Homo sapiens: one gene and its partner. The protein of the gene in region 2 purifies or fractionates together with the protein of the main gene of each other region. This does not show direct contact. Each region holds a gene or a part of one and is shown on either strand. Other genes may lie near its edges.

What was found. Proteins that work in one complex are often made in the same cells at the same time.
Region 1: the proteins of ELSPBP1 (region 2) and FKBP14 purify together in Homo sapiens (co-immunoprecipitation; 2 studies listed by BioGRID and IntAct, with this or other methods). This does not show direct contact.

The regions. Positions count from the first base shown.
Region 1 is NC_000007.14:30,009,937-30,013,399, forward strand, and holds the end of FKBP14 (peptidyl-prolyl cis-trans isomerase FKBP14 precursor), read right to left. Parts: 3' UTR 651-3,463; downstream 1-650. UniProt on the Homo sapiens protein: PPIase which accelerates the folding of proteins during protein synthesis. Has a preference for substrates containing 4-hydroxylproline modifications, including type III collagen. May also target type VI and type X collagens.
Region 2 is NC_000019.10:48,018,508-48,022,162, reverse strand, and holds part of ELSPBP1 (epididymal sperm-binding protein 1 precursor), read right to left. Parts: intron 2,445-3,655; coding exon 2,286-2,444; intron 1-2,285.

The DNA of each region.
Region 1 (3,463 bases), on a different chromosome or scaffold from region 2:
TGTGGTCAACCAAGATCGCGCCACTGGACTCCAGCCTGGCAACAAGAGCGAAACTGTGTCTCAACAACAACAAAAGAAAAAAAATAGAAAAGAAATATAAGCAATATCCCACACATCATTAATAAAATAAAAACTACAAATTCATTTCCATAAGGAAAGATCCAAATGGCTAGATTCTTCATCTGAATCAGAAATCATTGTTTCTCGTTATTTTCATGGCAACCCCGCATTTCGTTTAATCAGAGGGTATTTTATAGCACTGATTTACGCAGTAGGCATAAATCAGTGTGTCCACCTGCTACACACGATAAAACCCTAAACCAAAACAACAGTGATAATAACCATCACCCTCCCTCCTCCCCCTCGAAAAACCAAAAACACTTTCTTCAGTGCTAAGAATTAACTATTAACTATCATGCTAAAGGTCAAGACTTAATGCATATTTCAAAAGAATTTAAATCAAACCACAGCTTTTCTTACAAATATACCTATACAGAGCAGATAATCAGAGGCACAAAGTGTCACTGTACCCCTCTCCTTCCACTACCTGTCCATCTTCCTCACTTTTGGTATAAAATTTAGAATAACAGGTAAGAAAATCAGTACAACTGCTGAGGAAATTGGTGTTGAAGAATTTTTCACAAAATCAGTTATCTCCCAAATAAACTTTATTTTGAAAAGAATATCACAATATAGTCATGTAAATTTAAATATGGCACACTGAGCAGTATTGACGCAAATTATATAGTCATGTAACCATGTTTCGGTCAATGTACAATATATATATGATGGTGGCCCCACAGATTATAATGGAGTTGAAAAATTCCTGTCACCTGCTAGGGATGTCTTGATCCTGACCCTGCATAGGCCTAGGCTAGTGTGTTTGTCTTGGTTTTTGACCAAAAAGTTTAAAAATTCAAAATTTAAATAGATAAAAGCTTATATAATAAGGATATAAGGAAAATATTTTTGTACAGCTATGCAATGTGTGTTTTAAGCTACGTTATTACTAGAAGAGTCCAAAAATTGTTTTTAAATAAGTTTCTAAACTAGAAAATTTACAGTAAGCTAAGGTTAGTTTTTTATTATTTCTATAAAAATTATAGAATTTTTTTTTTTGAGACAGAGTCTTGCTCCTCTGTCACCCAGACTAGAGTGCAGTGGTTCGATCTTGGCTCACTGCAACCTCCACCTCCTGGATTCAAGCAATTCTCCTGCCTCAGCCTCTCAATTAGCTGGGACTACACGCATGTGCCACCACACCTGGCTAATTATCGTATTTTTAGTAGAGATGGGGTTTAGCCATGTTGGCCCGGCTGGTCCCAAACTCATGACCTCGAGTGATCCACCCACCTTGGCCTCCCATAATGCTGGGATTATAGGCATAAGGCACCATGCCCAACCAGAAGAAAAACATTTTTTATAAATTTTAGTGTCACCTAAGTGTACGGTGTTTATAAAGTCTACAGTAGTGTACAGTAATGTCCTAGGCCTTTACATTCACTCACCACTGACTCATCCAGAGCAACTTCCAGTTCTGTAAGCTCCGTTAGTAAGTGCCCTATACAGGTATACCATATATATATATATACACACACCATATATATATATACTATATATATATATACCATATATATGGTATATATATATATATAGTATATATATATATATATATTTTTTTTTTTAGATGGGGAGTCACTCTGTCACCCAGGCTGGAGTGCAGTGGTATGATCATGGCTCACTGCAGCCTTGACCTTGCCAGGCTCAGGTGATCCTCCAACCTCAGCTTTTGTACTTTTAGCAGAGACGGGGTTTCGCCATGTTGCCCAGGCTGGTCTTGAGCTTCTGGGCTCAAGCAATCCACCTGCTGAGGCAGCCTCCCAAAGTGCTAGGATTACAGGCGTGAACCACTGCACCTGACCAGATTTTTTACAAAATCTTTTATACCATATTGTTATTGTTGTAGTATCTTTTCTGTGTTTAGATGTTTGAATAAACAGACACTTGCCATTGTGTTACAATTGCCTACATGATTCAGAACAGCAACATGCTGTAGCCTAGGAGCAATAGGCTATATACATGTCCTACATGTGTAGCAGGCTACACTATCTAGGTTTGTGTAAGTACACTCTATGATGTTCCCACAACGATGAAATAACCTAATTAGACATTTCTCAGAGTGCATCTCCATCATTAAGTGAGGTATGACTGTACATGTGAAGTCACAGTTCATGTCTGATTATTCCCACTAATAGAAGAGTACAAAGGTACAGTGAAACCAAAAAAAAGAGCAGATAACTTAAAAACCATAACTTGTGCATATGTTTTCATTTTATACTTGTGTCCAAATGTTTAGATGAGAACTGATACAAATTCACAGGTTTTTAAAAATGCTGCCTGAATAATCAAAACTCTTTTTACTTTTCTTGCCCTACTATAGATAGCATCAGTAATGTTTATACAGAGTAGCACCATCGGACAAACTACTTTCCCTTCTCCCATCATAGAGTATAAGGCTGTCTGTATTATGGCTTAAAACATTAGCAATGACTTAATAGTTTTCAACATACAGCTGATTTTGTTGGAGAAAGGTGTTACAGTATAGTCTTGTTAAGAACTTTATGTTTTACTGAGGAAAATGTCAACATATAATCAGTGAAAGTGGTCTACATATGATGTAATAATTGTTCATAATTCTTTTTAAACAACAAATGGGGGTAAATATGAATGAAAGAAGTAAAACACATCTGGAACCTCGCGTTGTTCAGGGTTTTTGAGGCAATTCAGAGCTAACTGCAAGATTATGCTATGAAACTGAAGCCATTTCTATATCATAGTGAGAATTCTAATGTACCAGAAACAGGCAGAAAGCCATCTTCAGAGAATGAAGACTCAAAGATAAACAACGGCACAGCAAACTGAAGAGAGAATTAGACCCCAGGGAAATTTTCACTTTTCATTAGTAGAGGGCAGTAGAAGACACTGAACTTGGGGACTGAATACTGGTTCTGCAGGTTAGTGCTGACCCTGGGCATAACAGTCAATCTTTTTGAATGACAATTTCCTCGTCTATAAATTAGGTACAGTGAGATCCACCAGCTTGTTTTATGACTCAGAGCCATGAAAAGCGAAGATAATAATGCACTTAATATCATTTTGTACACTATAAAGGGCTACTCTTAGAAAATGAAGATTTGATAACTTTAAAAAAAAGAATTAAAGATAAAAGCCAATTTAAAATAAAATTATATATATTTTTTTCTTTTTTAAAATCCAGGATAGGTATTTATTCAATAGTAGCTGCTGTAGGTCTGCTTCTTTTTTTTTTTTTGAGATGGAGTCTTGCTCTGTCACCCAGGCTGGAGTGCAGTGGCACAATCTTGGCTCACTGCAACCTCCGCCTCCCGGGTTCAAGCAAATCTCCTGTCTCAGCCTCCCGAGTAGCTGGGACTACAGGTGTGCA
Region 2 (3,655 bases):
GCAGAAGGGGATAAAACAAAGGTTACTCCTCAGGCTTCACACTGTCGTAGAGGCGTGGGCTTCAGGCCCACCCTAGATTTCAAATTGGGGCTGAGTGTGGTGGTTCGCGCCTTTAATCCCAGCATTTAATCGCGCGCATTTAATCCCAGCTCAGTTGTGAGGCTGAGCCAGGAGGATCATGTGAAGCCAGGAGTTCAATACCAGCCTGGGCAACATAGTGAAACCCCGTCCCTACAAAAAAAATTTTTTTAATTAGTTGGGTGTGGTGTATGCCTGTAGTCCCAGCTACTCGGGAGGTTGAGGCAGGAGGATTGCTGGAGCCTGGGAGGTCGAGGCGGCATTGAGCCATGATTGCACCACTGCACTGTAGCCTAGGTGACAGATGGAGATCCGGTCTCTAAAATATAAAATGTGGCTGCGCTTTGTGGCTCATGCCTGTAATCCCAACACTTTGGGAGGCTGAGGCAGGCAGATGACTTGAGGTCAGGAGTTTGAGACCAGCCTGGCCAACGTGGTGAAACCCCATCTCTACTAAAAAAATACATATATACAAAAATTAGCTAGGTGTGGTGCCAAGCGCCTGTAATCCCAGCTACTTGGGAGGCTGAGGCAGAAGAATCGCTTGAACCCAGGAGGCGGAGGTTGCAGTGAGCCGAGATCACGCCACTGCACTCCAGCCTGGGCGACAGAGTGAGATTCCGTCTCAAAAATAAAATAAAATAAAACAAAATATAAAAAGTAAAAAAAAAAAAAAACTAAAAAATAAAATCTGGGTAAACCCTACACATGAAGACACTGCCTGGGCACTGCTCAGAATGCCGACCTAAACCTAAGCCAAAGAAGAATTTTGTTCACAGTACAAGAGCTGAAATGAGCCGAAAGAGCACCCCCTTGTTCCCCCTTGGCTGAGAACATGAGTGTTGGGAGACTCAAACTCAAACTTCCTAACTCTGTGTGTGTCCACAAATGACCACAGAAGCACCACAAGTATCAATTTTCTGAGTGACAAAGTTTAGCGAGTAGGCACATTTGCACCTGTGGAATCCATGAAAGATGAGGACGTAAATGATGTCCTCATGAAAGATGACCCCATAAATAGTACAAACTGGAAGCCTCTATCCACAGCAGCTTGAGGCAACAGAGGGTAAATGGGTCTCAATTTTTGCTGTCACATCTCCCATGACCAGCTGAGAAATAATTTATTTTATTTAGGAAAGTCCCAAGTTGTTGGAACAACACACCCCCCCACCCACAGCTATTCGGACTGACCCCTTGCCCGGAGTGGCGCAGAAATATAACTCCTTCTAGTTCCTCTTTGCCCAAGGACTTCCCTTTCCTTTCCACTGGGTCTTGGGTATTTTCTTCCCTCAGAAGCTATCAAGAGTGTAGGACATGAGAAAGGCTGGAAGATAGGGCAGGCACTGGAATAGGGAAGAAGGGCAGAGTGGAAGCACAGAGGGCCCTGGAGGAAGGAGGGAGAAGGAGAATGCTGGTCACCAGGAGCACCTGGTGGATGGAGGATTTGTCTCAGAGGACTAATTCCAGTGTCCTCATCTTTCATGGATTCCACAGGTGCAAATGCGTCAACTCGCTAAACTTTGTCACTGATGAAATCGACACTCATGACGCTTCTGTGGTCATTTGTGGACACACACAGGAGAGGAAATTTGAGTCTGAGTCTCCCAACACACATGTTCTCACCCAAGGGGGAACAAGGGGATGCTCTTTTGGCTCACTTCAGCTCTTGTACTGTGAACAGGTGCACTTTAGCAGTATAGTATTATGTTTTCCAAATGTTTGAGCCTTTTGTTGGGTGATTTCACTGTTTGCTTATTTATTTATTTTAGACGCAAGGTCTCACTCTGTCACCCAGGCTGGAGTACAGAGGTGTGATCACAGCTCACTGCAGCCTCAACCTCCCAGGCTCAAGTGATCCTCCCATCTCAGCCTCCCAAAGTTCTGGGATTATAGGCGTGAGCCACCATTCGTGGCTCACACTGGGGTTTTTAAAAACCCTGGCGTGTGTTTACTCTGTATTTGCATCATGGTTAGGTGTTTAACATTTTGAGCATTTCATTTTGGCACCTTTCTCTTGGATTTTAAAGCCTGTGGCATATCACATCATTGACATTATTCGTGAGCCAGAACTCTGTCTGCCGGATTCATCACCAGATCCTCAGTGCCCAACTCAGTGCCTGGCTCACAGTGGGGTTTCAGGAGGTGTTTGTTGAGCAAATGAAAGAAAGACTCCACCCACACCCACCCAACCCCCATCCCCAGATTACTGGTGTCGGCACAGAAACTCCACTTTCCATCCTTATCCATGTTCTCTGTGGTTGGGCACCAGAGCTTGTTGCTTTCATCCTCCATGCAATCAGAGACCACATTATTTCTGTAGATGGAGGGGAAGATGCAGGGCTTCCTGAGAGAATTTCCCCCATACTCTGAAAAGGATTATGGAAAGGTTACGGGTCAAGAAGAGGAGATGAAAAGAGCTTCCATTTATGACACACAAACTGTGCCACGCTTTATCCCATTAAAGGCAACGTCACATTGGATTCTCCAAGCAACTTCCGGATGACGTTATTATCCCAATGTTACGGATAAGTGAGAACCAAAACTATCAACTCGTGCACAGCTTACTGTCTCTATTAACACGACTTCACGGTTCTGCGGTCGCCATCACCTTGACTCTACTAAGCTAGGAAATTCTTGCCCAGGAAGATAAGAGTTGCGAATAGCCCTATTATTCATTCCAGAAGCCTCCAGAAAAGCTAGTTACATAAATATCGATTGTGTCAAAACACTATTTACTCTCCTAGACTCTTTAAAACCCCATCTTTGGTCATTTCACCTTGCTGTGAACACCAATCCTAACTATTATATCATGATCCTTACACAATCCAAATCACATCCCCCATTGAAAGACCCACCTTAGACGAGACTCCAAGACCCCATCAATATGCTGAGTTTTCCCTCCCCACTTCGAGACGTTATTTTTTATTTTTTTAGATGGAGTCTTTCTCTGTCAACCAGGCTGGAGTGCAGTGGTACGATCTCGGCTCACTGCAACCTCCACTTCCCGGGTTCAAGAGATTCTTCTGCCTCAGCCTCCCGAGTAGCTGAGATTACAGGCATGCACCACCATGCGTCGCTAATTTTTCTATTTTTATTAGAGAAGGGGTTTCACCATGTTGGCCAGGCAGGTCTTGAACTCCTGACCTCAGGTGATTCACCTGCCTCGGCCTCCCACAGTGCTGGGATTACAGGCATGAGCCACCACGCCCAGCCCAAGACGTTATTAAGATGCTGTCAAGGAAGTGAGCAATAAACTCAGTCTTGCCTAATTAGCAGGCTTTTTTTTTTAATTTCCTTTGGTGGTCTTTCATGGGGAGCTAGAATTTGACTAAGGGGTTGGGGTTTTCAGGCAGTAATGACTGGTGATTAAGAGCACAAATTCTGAAGGTTAGACTTCCTGGGATCAAAATCACAGCTTTGCTTCTATTAACCTCAGTTTGTCCATGTGTAAAACTGGGCTAATAATCACATTTACCTGATAGAGATTATTGTATGGAATAGATGAGTTATTTCATGTGAAGCACTTAAAATACTGCCTGGCACATAGAAAATGCTTATTAAAAGTTCATTATGTTAT